Linked DNA regions of Homo sapiens: region 2 is linked to region 1. A link means that fine-mapping ties the variant in region 1 to the expression of a gene that starts in the linked region. Tissue or cell type: whole blood. Region 1 holds a variant in brackets; the other region holds the start of a gene. All regions are shown on one strand. Distances are between the middles of the regions.

What was found. PIP is the estimated chance that this variant, and not a neighbour inherited with it, causes the effect.
Region 2: it holds the start of TGFA, and the variant in region 1 is fine-mapped to the expression of TGFA in whole blood (TOPMed, PIP above 0.99).

What each region holds. Positions count from the first base shown.
Region 1 is chr2:70,520,803-70,528,802 of GRCh38, reverse strand. All of the region lies in intron 1 of TGFA (transforming growth factor alpha), which reads left to right. Among named protein-coding and RNA genes, the nearest start is that of TGFA, 29 kb to the left of the region's middle. RefSeq lists an enhancer at 4,175-4,791. The variant C/G (reference allele first, on the strand shown) is at 4,739.
Region 2 is chr2:70,549,477-70,557,476 of GRCh38, reverse strand. TGFA (transforming growth factor alpha) reads left to right here and starts at 3,651. Exons shown (of 6, transcript NM_003236.4): 1 at 3,651-3,749. The coding sequence starts at 3,710. LOC124907824 (a long non-coding RNA gene) reads right to left here and starts at 4,769. Exons shown (of 2, transcript XR_007086906.1): 1 at 4,085-4,769. RefSeq lists a silencer at 3,521-3,590.

The DNA.
Region 1 (8,000 bases):
TTGAATTAAACTACCCTTGTAGTAACTCTTAGGTTCTGCCCTCTTGGTCACAGAGCTCACTGACAATAGATTTTTAAAAATTGTATTGATAACTTATCCCCAGCTGAGAGCCAGAGCGCCTAAGATACATCATCTTTTTTGTGGGAAACCACACAAGCAAGGCCAGTTGCACTAAAACCAGGATACTGGCTTTTCTTGGTTGTTTCAAAGGCTGCTCAGATTCCTGACTGTGTGCCTGTCAACCTTTCTACTAGATGACTTCTCTGGAAGACCCACCCGCCCCCCACATCGTTCTACCCTTCCCTCCCCACTCCCCCAACCCCTGCCTTTTCCATGCCTCTTTCCACAGGGATCATTGTTTTTCTCGGCCTCCTCTCGTCTGACATGCTCCCAGTGTGAGAGTGAGGCTTGGGGTACAGGGCAGCCCAGCCCGGCGAGATCAGCTACTGACCGAAGCTGGTCATTGCTTCTCCCTGGGAGCCACTGTGAATACATGCTACTATGACCCTGTTATTAACATGTGATATTGGTGTAGTATGTTTGTTACAATTAATGAGCAATTGTTCAAAATATATCAAAAATATTGGTATATTATTAACTAAAGTTAAGACTAGTTGACTAAAATTAGATGTTACTGAACATAGCCCTTCAACACATTTCACCATAGGTGAGAAATAAGCGTGCTTCTGCCCTCTCTGTTTTCAGCAGGGTAGAATTCATAGTGATGGCAAAGGCTGGAAGTGAGCTTTGTCTGTCTTTGCAATCAGCTGAGCCCACAGGGCAGCAGATGAGGCTGAGAGCCACAGTGCTCCGTACAAGGCTGCTCATCCACGACTAAGCAGTGTCTCCTCTGCATTTCCAGAAATGTCTGACTCAAGCTGCCCCTGCCATGGCTTCCTTAGGAGAAGGACGTTGTACTTGAACCTAGGGAAACAGTATGACTGGACAATCCAGAGTGCAGAGTAAAGTCATCCAACTTCACAGTGCTGTAACTGTCATCAGCTGGTAATAGAATACTTTTTTAGAGTAGCTTTAGATTTACAGAAAAATTGAGCAGAAAGCACAGAGAGCTTTACCCCACTGCATAGTTTCACCTGTTATTAACATCCTGCATTGGTGTGATATGTTTGTTACAATTGATGAGTCAATTTTGGTACATTATTAACTAAAGTTAATATTAGTTAACTAAAGTTAGATATAAACTAAAGTCCCTCGTTTACATTAGGGCTCACTCTTGTAGTTGTACATTCTATGTGTTTGGACAGATTTATAATGACACATACCCACCATTATAGTATTGTACAGAGTCATTTCACTGACCTAAAAATTGCCTGTGCTACACCTGTTCATCCCTTTCTCCCCTCTCCCAAGCCCCTGGCAACTACTGATCTTTTTACAATCTCTACAGTTTTGCCTTTTTCAGACTGTCATATAGTTAGAATCATACAATATACAGCCTTTTCAGACTGGCGTCTTTCATGCAGTAATATGTATTTAAGCTTTCTCTATGTGACTTGATGCTTATTTATTTTCATTGCTGTATAATATCCCATTGTATGAATGTACCACAATTTGTTTATCCATTTACCTACTGAAGAATATTTTGGTTGCTTCCAAGTTTTCACAGTTATGATTAAAGCTACTGTAAGCATCTATATGCAGATTTTTCTTTGAAGATAAGTTTTCAACTAATTTGGGTAAATACCAAGGAGCACTATTGCTGGATTGTATAAGGGTGTGTTTGATTTTGTAAGAAACTGAAAAACTGTCTTCTAAAGTGTCTGGACCACTTTATCAATTGGTTTTGACTCCTGAACCACTTTCATTTAGATGAGTCTAATTTTTCCAGAAAATACTTCAGAAATACACTAACTGTTAGTAACCTGAAACCCTTTTCTCACTGCACTCTTACATGGGACTTAAAGGTGAAATGCTGCCACCTTCATTCTTCTTTCTGTAGTCTTCCTGCTGGTCTCTGTTCTTGCTAGAACTAAACCATCCTAGCAGAAAACTTCCTCTTTTCCCTCTCCCTCCTTTTTGCTTCTCATCACCACCCTTTCCCCAGCAAAAGTTAAAGGGGAAAATGGACTAGAGCAGGGTTGGTAGGGGAGATCCCACTCCCATTTTCCCATAGCAGAGCTATTGCATTTTCTCCGGGATTTTTGTTTTCCTTTAAAATGTCTTAAATTGACACTGCTAAAAGATACATGATGCTCTCTGCCCCACAGCTCTGGGGTTGGCATGCCTTGTTCCTTACTGGTTTGTCTCGAGTCAATAAATGAGATTCTGCCCATACAACTAAGTGCATTTGGGGCATTAACTGAACAGCTTTGCTACACGTGGCTGGTAAGAACATGTATTGACCTGAGGGAGATACATTAGGGGCCTTAAAATCTGGCAGTGGACCAAAAGAAAGTCAAATGCATCATCCCCGTGTGTTTCTTCCCTCTTGGGGCTTCCGAGTCTCATTGGAACCCCACCACTATAAAACACCTGGAGTGGGTTTTGTGACTTGTCAGTCTTGTTACTTTATAAATAGGCTTCATGTTGTGTAACCTGAATGCTTTGGGTTAATACAAAGAGACAGACAAGACAGGCACAGGCTGATGACCTGGAGAATAGAGGGAAGAGCTGACAGGAAAAAGCATTCCAGGTAAATGGGGCAGGTTGGATCACCATGGTCCTTCTGTGACCATTTTCAAGGCTCTAATGAGTGGCCCTGTCTGCTCATGTGACTACAAGCTTGTTGCATTTCCCCTGAGTTTTGGGTACATCTGCCCATATACAGTTGGAAACTAAATGACCTGCAGTTGAAGAGACTTTCTCTGTTGGGGCCCAGAATTTCTCAACAGAGTGCACTGTCAATATGTTAAGCAAGACAAGGTTCTGTGCATTACAGAAATCAGAAACTTAGCATCCGCGGCCCCACCATTAAGTACCAGTAGTGCCCCCTAGTCCTTGTGACAGTCAGAAAGCACCTCCCACCACAGGTTCTCAGATGCTCCCTAAGGGGCATCTGCTACCAGCAGTAAGAACCCCTGGGCTAGCGGGTGGTCTGGTCAAGGTCTCCCAGTGAAAGGGAGTAAATCTGAGTACCACCCCGTCCACTCCTCCTCTTCAGCACCTGGAGCCTGCACTTGTTGCCCAGGCCTTTCTCCCCTACTAGCCTCTTCTCCCTCCTCCTGCCCCTTGCTTCTGGGGCCCAAGGAGGAGAACTTAGAGATTCTGCCAGTTTGCAGTGTGATGTGGGTTGAGAAATGTGGAGCTGCAAGAAGTAAGTGTATTTACCCCTTAACTCTTGAAAACCTGTAGTTCTGGGGATTTGTTTCCTTCTTGATTGAACTTGCTTCTTAATCAGCCACCCTTATCAACTCAAGTGAGCATGCCTAAGGGGTGTCCTGTGGCCAGCCCCCAAGGTGGACAGTGGGGATTAGCAATGGGGCAGCATTGTCCCCTTCCCCCATCCCCTACTTCCAGGCTGATGCTGCATTGATCTGAGATTCTGCCAAGTCACACTGGTATTTGTATTGGCCCAAACCCAAAGCCTCACAATGCCTTCTGCAGGGTGGTTCCGGGGTGTCCAGGGTGTTGTGCACCAGGGTGCAGGGATGAGTTTGTCATCACCAAGCTATTCACATGGAGGAAATGGGACAGAGTTCAAGGATTGCTTGTTTTTACCTCCTCCCTGCTCATACCCTACTTTCAAGCCACTTGTGTGAATGATGCCCACACATGGCTTTGACTGAGCTGAGGGGATGGGCTTGGTTTGATTTCAGCCACCAAGAGTCTAACTTTGCTGGCCCGAGGTGCACACCAGCAGAACCACTGCTCACCTGGGCCCAGAGGATGGTAATTCTGAGACATCACAGGCCAGGGAAGTTGAGATGGGGCCAATGGGCCTTCACGGATAGGGAGGGACTTATAACCTCCCCATGGATCCTTCCAGAGGTGGTGTTTGGTTCCTGTACTTCTTGTCAGCCAGGTGCCCTCTGCTCAGCTGGTTCACAATGCAAAGGGCCCAGGGCCCTGTGGATAGCTATAGCATCTGCCACTTTATCCCCAGCTTTGTCCCTAGCCCACTGCCGCCATCCCCTTCTTCCTCCCTCCTGGACTCTGGGAAAATCAAGTGTAACCCTTTCCAGAGACACCTCAAGGCCTCGTGTCACAGTGCCAGTCAGCTGGAACAGGTTTTCAGAGTGCCTCAGCTTGGCACGGCTTCTCTGCAACCTCAGAACTCGGCCCTGGTAGAGCCTGTTGGTGATTCAGCAGCTGGGGAACTCCAGCCAGCCCGAGAGGGCTCGGCGATACTCGCCCTGTTGCCTTGAAATTCCAGGAATTTGGATGGGGGCCCTCAGCCAGCCAGTGCGTGAGCAGGCCTGGGGAAGAGGAAGGTTGACTCAGTACCCAGCCCCTGGTCTAAGTCTTTGATAAGGCTTAAACTCTTCGGAAGAGACAATTGCTTCCTCCTGGCACAAAAGGGTGTGGCATAGATCTGCACAGGTGAGAGCAAGCACAGGGCCTTCCTCACCTCTAGCCAGATGCGTGCTGCATCCTGGTTAACACTGTTGGATAAAGATGTTTTACCTATCTGCTATTTGCTTTGCTTTATGAGAGAGGGTTCTCTCGGACCACCAGATCAGTGGGCAGCCTTATTCTATAAGGCTTTGAAGTGGGTAACATGTTGGGGAGAATACAGGAAGATGTCTGTGTGGCAGTGTGAGTTGTTGCATCACAGTGG[C/G]CGGGCCTTAGAAACAAAAGTGTCTCAACAGGAAGCAACTGGCTCCTCCTCCAAGGGTCTCTGTGCCTTTTTTATTTAGTTGTTTATTTTTTGCATGCTTCTCCAGATGTCAGGAAAAGCATTTCACCTCCTTTTGCAGCTATGTTACTTCTCTGTTAACATAGCTGCAAAGGGTTATGTAACAACTAGGTTACTTCTGTGGTGTCAGTTCTGGGCACTTGTTAGTGGCATTGACTCTAAAGAGTTCAAAGCAGTTTGCCAATATTCTCATTTGTCTCTTGAAGTAGGGAAAGATAGTAACCAGCTCTCCTAAATCAGTAATGGTGGGAAATGAGGTCTGGGCTGAGAGAAGGAGGGACAGGAGATACTAGTCCATGTGAGTGACCTGATCTTATACCCAGCCCAGTGCTGGTGGGTATTAGGAGGTGCAGGCAGGGAGCTCTGCCTGCCAGAGTGGTCAGGGGGCATCGTGGAGGACTTGGGGATTGAGCTCGACCTGGAAGGCTGGTAGAAATGACGTCAGGCAGTAAGGAGGCTTTTCTACGCAGAAGAGAAGGAGTTAGTGTTTGTAAGAGACCCGGACTAGGTAGAAACATTTGGGTGGAAGAAAGGGCTGTAATAGGGAGCATCAGAGATACAGGAACACCAGTGAGTGTGTTTGCTTCAATCATCTGGATTGTAAACTCCTTGTGGCAAGTCTTGCCTTTGCTTGAAGAGCCCTGGGACACAACATTCACAACGAACGTTCACAATGAGCGTTCACTCCTCTGTCTTAGCCTCCTTGGGATATGGCCAGGCCTCTTTGGGGTCACTGGATGGAAGTCTTTGTGTTCTTATAAAAGTTTCAGGAAAAGCCAACAAAATGAGTTAAGGGTAGGAAAATAAAATATTTCAGGGGTCATCTCATCGGGTGACCAAACAATGCAGGATCCACTTGACAGGCCACTTCAGCAGACTTAAATCCGGGCTTTGGATAAGGATGACAGTTCCTTCATTCCTCATGGATTTTTCAATATTGTAGTGGGAATATTTAATATCATTTAAATAGAAAAACACAGATTTAACTTACCACCCAACTGAACAATGGTACAGCTATTTATAATGGAGTTCAATGGCTTTTGAGAATTGGAAGGATCCTTTCTCATAGGAAGGGACTTTTCATTCATTGCTCTCTGCCCAGCACCTAGACAATGTCCCGCTAATGGTGCAGCAGGTGCTCAGTGAGCACTTGTTGAATGAATGAATGTCAGGATTCAAGTGCTCTGTGCAGCAAACCACCATGGCCCACGTCTACTTAAGTAACAAACCTGCACATCCTGCACGTGTACCCCTGAACTTAAAATAAAAGTTGGCTGTGATCCCAGCACTTTGGGAGGTCGAGGCAGGTGGATCACTTAAGGTCGGGAGTTTAAGACCAGCCTGGCCAACATGGTGAAACCTCGTCTGTACCAAAAATATAAAAAATTAGCCGGGTGTGATGACACACACCTGTATCCCAGCTATTCAGGAGGCTGAGGCAGGAGAATTGCTTGAACCTGGGAGGTGGAGGTTGCAGTGAGCTGAGATCATGCCACTGTACTCCAGCCTGGGCAACAGAGTAAGACTCCATCATAAAAAAGTAAATAAATAAAAAATAAAAGTTGGAAATAAAAATTCAAGTGCTCCTCATCTCCACTGAAATTAGAGTAAGAACCAAGACCTAGAGCTGTAGCGGCAGGGATCTAGACTAGAAGTAAAGGAATTCCCGAGGATCTGCAGGTTTTCCCATTCCCCATCTGTACACCCTCACTACTCACTACCCAGCCCCTAGTCCAAGTCTTTGATGAGACTTTAACTCTGTTTTCAAGCTGGTGACCTCTTAGAGAAATTCAGTTCAACATAAATGTATTAAAATCCTATGTAGGTGCGTTAGGCCAGGTGTAAGGATAGAGATGATTTAGCCACAGCTCCTGACCGCACTAGAGAGGAGAGACAGGTAAGATGTAAAAACTTCTGAACTGCAAGGCAGAATAAAGTAAGGATTCCTCTGAGGAAGAAATGATTATTTCTGACATTTGAGCAAGGCTTTGAGAGGCCAATTTGATTCCCATGGGTAGAGGATGGGATATGCCGACTTGAGAGATCAGCATGATGTGAATGAAAACTGTCAATAGGTTCGGTACGGTGGCCTGCGCCTGTAATCCCAGCACTTTGGGAGGCCAAGGCAGGTGAATCATGAAGTCAGGAGTTCAAGACCAGCCTGGCCAATATGGTGAAACCCCGTCTCTACTAAAACTACAAAAATTAGCCAGGCATGGTGGCGCGTGCCTGTGGTCCCAGCTACTCGGGAGGCGGAGGCAGAAGAATCGCTTGAATTCGGAAGGCAGAGGTTGCAGTGAGCCAAGATCGTGCCACTGCACTCCAGCCTAGGAGACAGAGCGAGACTCAAAAAAAAAAAAAAAAAAAAACAAACAAACAACAACAAAAAAAACTATCAATAGTAGCAGCTACCATTTGTTGCATGTTTATTGTGTGTCACTCAATATACCACATTTTTCTCATGTGTCTCTCGTTTAATCTCTAAACAACCCTGTGCAAGAGTTGGATATCTTTATCTGCTTTTACAGTGAAGGAAACTGAGGCTCAGGCAACTAAACTAAAGTCAGCAGCCATAAGAAGTTGGGTGAGGATCCTAGTAGCATGAACCCAAGGCACCAAGTTGGGAGTGCCAATTTTTGTGCAGGGAAAAGGGGCAGTGCTGGGCAGCTGGGGTCAGAGGACCTGACAGGAGGGAATGGGTGGAGTTTAGGTGGAAACGAGGTCTAGGATCAGGTTATGCATGCTAAATCTCTACTCAGGACTTGGGGCTGGGTTCTGTCTCTGCGCTGGGTTCTGTGAGTGGTACAGAGCCCATGGAGAGCTTAGAGGATAGGAGTGATTTCATTCAGCAAGGTCAGTCTAGTAGTAGGAGCAAAGATTTTTTTTTTTAAGCTGTTGGCAAGAAAACCAGTCTAACAACTATTTTGATAGCACAGGGAGAGATGATAGGGCCTGAATTGGGGCAGTAACAGCAGGGATGCAGGGGGATGGATAGGATGGACGGTGTGGAGGCTGGGTGTGTAGGAGGGCTTGGCTTGGATACTGGGTGAAGGAGAGGGAAGGGCTGACAATGACTGCCTAGTTATCAGTCCCGCCCAGAACCAAGGAAGAGGTGGAAGACATGAGTTCAATTTTGAACACATGATCTGGGGTACAGGCCTTGTGGAGAGTGGTGGAGGTTGGA
Region 2 (8,000 bases), 29 kb before region 1:
TCTATAATAAGCATGTAGGAGAAAGGAAAGGGAAAACTGACAGGGCGGTTTACCGGCTCTCAGTAGAGCATAACATAGTTCTCTTGTTTGCACAGGGAGGAGAGGCTGTGATTGGCTTCTCACAGAAGAGATTATACTGAGCTCAAGGCCAGCTGCAGCAAGTGTGTGCAAAGGCAGTCCAGGCAGACTCTTAGTGGGAAGGCCACATAATCATCAGGCTCCACGTGCAGAGAAACAGGAGCTGCAGTGGCCACGCGAGACAGATGCAGTGTCTGTAGGTGAAGGCGCATACCTGAGTCTCCACACAGCTTCAAGGGGCTACAGTTGGAATTTCACTCGGCTCAGAGAGTGAGGTGTTCCAATACAAAATGTCACACCACCCTTTAGGAAAAATGATTGCTTTGCTCTAAATCGCGTTCTGTCAATTTTTTTCTTATTTCTTTCACACCACAGCTGAGAAACAACTTCATACCTCCTGATTCACCTATGAAAATATTTCCCATAGGAAGAGGTATGCACGTGCATGTACATGCATATGCTCAAGCAAAGAAGCTGATATGAAAATGATAACATAAAGATAGTGGTAAGGAACTAAGACAAGGGAAAGGTGTGTCCACTGAGGGAGTTTTCCTTTAAATAATAGGTAGTTTTGTTGATGTCAAATATTATGCTAAGTATGCAAATAAATTCTTGCATTTAGTACTCACATCAACCCAATGAGTTAAGCATTATCCTTATTGAAAATGTGGAAACCGAGGCAGTATAGCAGAGAAGCCAGCACATAAGCCTCAGAACCAGCTTGTTCTGCTTTCAAAATCAAGCTCTGCCCTTTATTGGCTGTGTAATTCTGGGTAAGTTACTAAATTCACTCAGTCTTGATTCTTCTCTTATAAAAGGGGATGGGATCTATCTCATAAGATTATTGTGAGGATTAAATGAGATATATAAAATACAAAAGATAGAGCATCAACAATTTAGGATATTAGGTTTCCTCTATGACTAAACGTTTAAAAATCATTTCAATTCAGTTTACCAAAAAAATGATCTTTAAGTTAAAAAAAAAAAAAAAAACACCCAGCCCCTGATGACCTGTTTGACTTGAATGAATTGGAGGGTTATAAAACCACAGATATGGACCAGCTTTTGAAAATCTTGGAGGGAGAATTAATGATTTTCAAGCATTAGAATGTACTTTGATTTGGATACTCTTTAGTTTGTAAGATGGCAAGTTATCTCTTTTTTTCTTTTTTTTTTTTTTTTTTTTTTTTTGAGACGGAGTCTCGCTCTGTCGCCCAGGCTGGAGTGCAGTGGCGGGATCTCGGCTCACTGCAAGCTCCGCCTCCCGGGTTCACGCCATTCTCCTGCCTCAGCCTCCCAAGTAGCTGGGACTACAGGCGCCCGCCACTACGCCCGGCTAATTTTTTTTGTATTTTTAGTAGAGACGGGGTTTCACCGTTTTAGCCGGGATGGTCTCGATCTCCTGACCTCGTGATCCGCCCGCCTCGGCCTCCCAAAGTGCTGGGATTACAGGCGTGAGCCACCGCGCCCGGCCATCTCTTTTTTTCTTTTTTTTTTTTTTTTGAGACAGAGTCTTGTTCTGTCATCCAGGCTGGAGTGCAGTGGCACAATCTTGGCTCACTGCAACCTCTGCCTCCCAGGTTCAAGTGATTCTCGTGCCTCAGCCTCCCAAGTAGCTGGGACTACAGACGCACGCCACCATGTCTGGCTAATTTTTTGTATGTTTAGTAGAAATGGGGGGTTTTACCATGTTGCCCAGGCTGGTCTCGAACTCCTGAGCTCAAGCAATCCACCCACCTCAGCCTCCCAAAGTGATGGTATTACAGGTGTGAGCCACCATGCCTGGCCTGCAAGTTACCTCTTGATTTAAAATATTTTCCAATCATGAAGGAAATTGACTTGATTCTGCTACTTCCCTCCACCTCTGACTTTGGGGGTAGGGGACAGATAAGCAGAAACTGCTGAACATGACCCTCAGCCGGCTGGGCAGCCATCCCTCAGCCACAGTGAGCTTGATTTGCGTGTTCCAGTAGGAAGCAAGGAGTCAGGTCCTTCTCTAGTCCTGGGGAACAGGAGAAGGGTGGGGGAACCCCTGATTCCTCCCCTTCTGTAGCCAAAGCAGACTAGTTTAGGGAGGAGACAGGGAAACCACCAGAGCAGGTCAAGATCAACCTGAAGGAAGTGGGAGTCAGGGACAACCTACTAAAGGAAGTGCATGTGTGCCTTGTACATGCATGGGGTGGACCAAGGAAAAGATTTACCCTAAAAGAACAAAGTATGCTCCGACAAATCTATTGAAAGGAATGATTTACACTGGTGCTTCCTGCCCAAATGTTGAGACCAATGGCCTGGTGCTTCCTTCTTGAAACTAGGTTGCTCTACTTACATGAAACAAACTGGGCAGAGGTCAACCGTGAGAGCCTGAGCCTCCCCAAGTAAACAGCAAAAGATTCCCCAGGCCCAACAGCCCCCACCCCCACCTTCAAGGAAAGTGGATCTACCCGGAGCACGTAGGCCAGAGGAGGCAGGAGAAGAGGGTCAGTCCGTGAGCTCCGGGTACCTGGAGAACATGAATCTCCCGGGTGTACTGTCCCCATGAGGGTCACCGAGGAACCTATGGATCTTCCACTCTTCGCCCAGAATGTCTTCCCTCTATCCCCTCCACCTCCCCAAATTCCAGCACCAGGGGCCACCTCAGAGCCACAAATCCTGAAAGGACCACCCAGGTGACTCGGGCCCACACACCCCTCTTTCGGGGTACACTTGGTGGCAGGCTAGCAGGCTTTTGGCCTCAGCTGGTGGTGCCATATAACCAGATTCGTCACAGAGACCCATTTTTTATCAGTCCCAGGCCAGAAGTACGAAGACTGATCTTAACGATGTGGCCTGCCTGGGAGGTAAGGCGGCAGGCGTTGCCAGAATTGATGGGAACTGTGGCACAGGTGGGAAACCTGGTTTAACAAATTCTTCATTGATTCAGGGGACCACTTTCCTTGAGCCAAGTCTTGGCAAGCGGCCGGCGAAACTCACAGGTCCCTTTCCTGGCTGCGTCCCCAGCCTCCAGCCTTCCCCGCCCCAGAGATGCCCCAGGAGCGGCCCCTCGGTGTAGGTAACGGGTGCCCGGGCGGCTCCGCTCCGCCGCCTAGAGCCTGGAAGCCGCCACTGCGGCCCAGGACAATCCGGCTACGCGGCCGGCGCCGACCCCGCACGCTGGAGTCCGCTGCCGCACGGCGCTGGCAGTCGGGGGTGGTGTCTGAAGTCAGGCGCTTCCTGCCTTTTCGTCGGCCCGGGTGCCCGGCTCGCGCCGCCAGGCTCTGGGATCCCAGGTCGCCCCGCCCAGCAGCCCGCGCCCTGCTCGGTGCGCTCAGCGTCCCCGCCCCTTACCCCAAACCCCCACCCTCTGTGCCCTCAGGGGGGCACCCCCATCGGGGCGGGAGGGGGGGGTCAGCTGTGCCCCGGTCGCCGAGTGGCGAGGAGGTGACGGTAGCCGCCTTCCTATTTCCGCCCGGCGGGCAGCGCTGCGGGGCGAGTGCCAGCAGAGAGGCGCTCGGTCCTCCCTCCGCCCTCCCGCGCCGGGGGCAGGCCCTGCCTAGTCTGCGTCTTTTTCCCCCGCACCGCGGCGCCGCTCCGCCACTCGGGCACCGCAGGTAGGGCAGGAGGCTGGAGAGCCTGCTGCCCGCCCGCCCGTAAAATGGTCCCCTCGGCTGGACAGCTCGCCCTGTTCGCTCTGGGTACGTACGCCGGCTGCGGCGCCCCCTGCGCCGCGCGACACCCTGCTTCCCCCGGTCCCCGCCGAGTTCCCCTTTCCGGGGGTTTCTGCGCCCGCCTGGGAGAGTGGAGAGAAGCGAGTAGTCTCAATGGGTTGGCGCCTGGGAGGCAAGGGGAGTCATTAAGAATGACAAAGAGGGGACTGTCCGGTCGAGCGCCGAGGCTTCCCCGGGAAAGTGGCTGCCTGGGCCGTGCGTGAGAACACCTGGGAAGGGGAAGCGGAGTGTGAACGGGCTTGAACTTTAATCCGCCGCAGCTGTGTGTCTGCTCAGACACATGCCTACACCTACCTGCTTACCTGGCTGCCTCCAAGCCCGGCTCAGCCGGCGTCGCTGGCGTGTAGACTGGGCCGCCTCGGAACGGGGGCCGGCGTCTAACCCTCTGGCCGGGTCTTGCCTGCGCCCCTTTGGCACCCCCTGCCCACCTCTAAGCCCCAGCGACGAGCAGAGATGTTCAAGATCGGCAGAGGCGCCCTCGATCTCTTTTCAGAGCTCTTGAGCTTTGGGGGTAGGTTTTGGATTTTTGGGCGGATTAATGGTTCCTTTAATTAACTTCCCTGGGAGAAGTGGTTTCGGTGTCCGCCGAGGGCAGGAGCGAAACCCTAGACCGAGTGTTGCCAGTTTCCTTTGAGTATGTCCTTGGAAATGAAGGAGGGATGGGAAAGGTGAGGGGAAGTTAAACCCCTCTCCCGGGTCGGGTCTGCGGAGCGGTGCGTTTTTTGGCGGTGAAGTTCAAGGGTCTGTCTGGACGCGGTGAGGGCGCAGCGCCGCGCGCCTCCTGGCCAATTCTTGCCCCTTGTGCTGGTGGGTCTCTCTGGTGTTGAGATAGCTGATCAATAGCGCAGGTGTCCTGGTTATTGCTAGTCTTCCGTGAAGTGAATTGTTCGTTCGATATGCCCCGAGTTTAACCCGTATAGCATGCGGCTCGCTGCAGGGTGGTTAGAGTCTGTGGAAAGCCATGGAACTCCTCCCCAGAAATGCCCAGAGCCGCAGCCTCACCCAGCTCCGTGTACAACTACAGGGGGTTCGCGGCCCCGCCTGCAAGCCTGCCCTAGAAACGCTGATTAAAAACCGCAGCAGAAGGGGAGGCATCCTGTAAGAGAAATACAAGGCAGTCTTGGAACCGGATGCTCCCAGCTACACCCTTACCTGAAACTCACCAGCAGGTAACATGGGTATGGGAGGCTTTTCCCCCACATTTTTGAAGAATTGCCTTTTTTGTGTGCATGTATTGACTGTTGCTCTGATTTAAATTTTAGAAAAAGCAATAAAACATTACCAATACAAGGGAAGCTTCCTGGATATAATTATCCCTTGTAATGTTTTTGCAAATAATAGTAGTAAGTAGTAGTAGTAATAACAGCTGATGCTATTCGAGCATTTTACTCTGTGTCAGACACAGTCCAAGTGCTTTACATTTATTCATGCAGTTTTCACACCAACCGGATAAAGAAGGTGTTAATATTATTCTCATTATATAGCAGAGGAAAGTAAAGCACACAGGGTCCACAGTAAGTAACTGGACCAGGATTGTCGAAGAACGTGGAAGGAATGTGAATATGAAAAGTCACCTAACTTGTGGTCATTATAGTCCCATCTCTCTTTTGGGACTTTGCCTTAAAGAGAGATTATGTGGAATACCCTGGAACTTGTTGTTAAATTGAGTTTCCTATTGAATTCCTGGGATCTCAAGGTGGTTATTCGGTAAAAATTAGAGGCAGGAAATGATGAAGATAAGCACATTTGAGTAAGTGTTTGAAAGCTGTCCCTACACCCCACACTCCCATCCCAGAATTCTCGCCCACAAAGACTGCATTCATTCATCATGTAATTTTTCTCTTTTGCCTGAATGTTCTTTTCAGCTTGATCTTTGTTTCCTTCTTTAAGAAAATGATGTATAAACTTTAAAAGATTGATCAATATGTAAAAACTTGCTCACACAGTTCCAAAATGTGAGCAGTTGAAAAAAGTGGAGAAAAAAAAAAGGCAGGAGTAATTTACACCAGTGAGGACTCCTTTTTATTTATATGTCTTTAAAAGAAAAATCACAGCTGTGAGTTCTGTGCGTTTACTAGAACTGCTGCCTCCCACATATAGCTTTACTTTGCACATTTCCTTCAAAGCTGCTTTCCCCTCTGATTTTTCTTAAATAGTTGAAGGCAGTTCCAGGAGAATCAACCAGTGTTCCATCGCTACCCGAGATCTAGGAAACCTCCGTGGGGCTAGTCTGAGAAGGAACTGGCTGTTAGGAGTCTCGGTTAATGTTTGATTACTTGGAACCTGAGCATTGATTAATGTTTTCAGTAAGAGAATGTGAAGACTGTTGCCCAAATGGCAACACTGGAAACATAACCCAGGTTCCTGTGGTGGCTGCCCTCCCATGTCAGGTTTCCATCACTGGCAGGCAGACCGCACGGGGGCTTGGCATTTCCAGTTACATTTCCTCCTCTGTGTTCACGGAGCAAGATGTGTGATCTTGGGCAAGTTACTTAGCTTTTCTATGCCTTGTTTTTCTCACCTGCAAAATGGGGATATTAATAGGGTTGTTGAATATATTTAATGTATGCAGAAGGGTGCCTGGTATGTAGTAAGATCTTAATCTTATCATCATCATCATTGTTGTTGTTACTTTGGGCCCCATAGAATTCCAGACATCATTGCAGGTTATGTGAGTTGTATAACTGGGAGAGTTTGTAGGTTTTCGTTTATCTCATCTCCATGCTCTTTACCATTCCTTCGAAAAATATCACCCAACCTAAAAACCTACCTAGGTAATTTCTGGTGAATATGATTTGGCCAATGACAAATTCAAGCAAATCTGGAGGGTTTTTTTGTTTTGTTTTCTTTTGTTTTTTTGGTTTTTTGTTTTTTGAGACGGAGTCTCGCTCTGTCTCCCAGGCTGGAGTGCAGTGGCGCGATCTCGGCTCACTGCAAGCTCCGCCTCCCGGGTTCACGCCATTCTGCCTCAGCCTCCCGATTAGCTGGGACTACAGGCGCCCGCCACCACGCCCGGCTAATTTTTTAAATATATTTTTAGTAGAGACGGGGTTTCACCGTGTTAGCCAGGATGGTCTGCATCTCCTGACCGCGTGATCCACCCACCTCAGCCTCCCAAAGGGCTGGGATTACAGGCGTGAGCCACCGTGCCCGGCCCTGGAGGTTCTTTTAGACATCATGAATTCTTTAATTCTTTTTAATTTAATCTTTTTTAATTTTAATTATTTAATTATTTAATTTTTTATGCAAATTTTTTGTATCTCCTTTAGTATTCAACGATCAGTTGTTTATGGAAGTTAGCACTAAGTTCCAGTTTTGTCATCTGTAAAGTGGGAATAATAAAACTGTGCCCACCTCACAGGCTGTTGTAAGACTCAAATGAGATGGTAAATATGGAAGCTATTTATAAAAAAAAATAAGGACTGCACACAAAATGCAACTGATCTTATGATACAAAAATGGATTTTATAATCCAGAGATAAGCTTTATTATTTTTATGGCAACTCCCGTAAGTAAGGACCGAATGTGGACCTAAAGAATGATGTCATAGGAAATGAAGTAGCATTAAGGATGGGCAGAGGCGAAATAGATCACCTTCCCTGTTTAAGTCAGGACTGAGGGACCAGTACGGGAACTGAAAGAAGACGTTTCTTTTCTCTATTACCTGGACGTGATGTCTTTCAGAGTAGACAGTGGAGGTTTTCCTAGGACACATGTTTTCCGTATTGGGCAGCCATAATTAGGGAGTGTTCACTTAGAACATGGGCTGTAAAGCTGTATATGGAAGCCTTAGAGGCTGAGTTTTCCATATTTGCTTTTCCAGATTTTGGGTTCCTCAGGATAAAGTGATCTTTCTATAAATACTCAATGTCCCCTGCAAAGGGGACTTTTCTTATAGGAATAAGTGATGCTTCTTGTTACTGTTACTGTGGCAACATATGAAAAATAGATGACTTTTCCATTAGGCCTAAGGACCTTTTCAAAGTGTGTCTTGAACAAGGTCCTACTCTTTGCACTGCCCTCTAAAAGGGATGGGCAACGGGAAGAGGAGGTTTGGTTAATGGAAATGAAAATGGCTTGTACACACTGAATTAGGCATCTTGTGCTTGGTGTCACACTCAAAACCTCTGTAGTATCCTCTACAGCAGGCCTTACATTGGAATGATCTGGAGGGCTGGTTAAAATGGATGGCCAGGCCTCCTCCACTGCGGTTGTGAT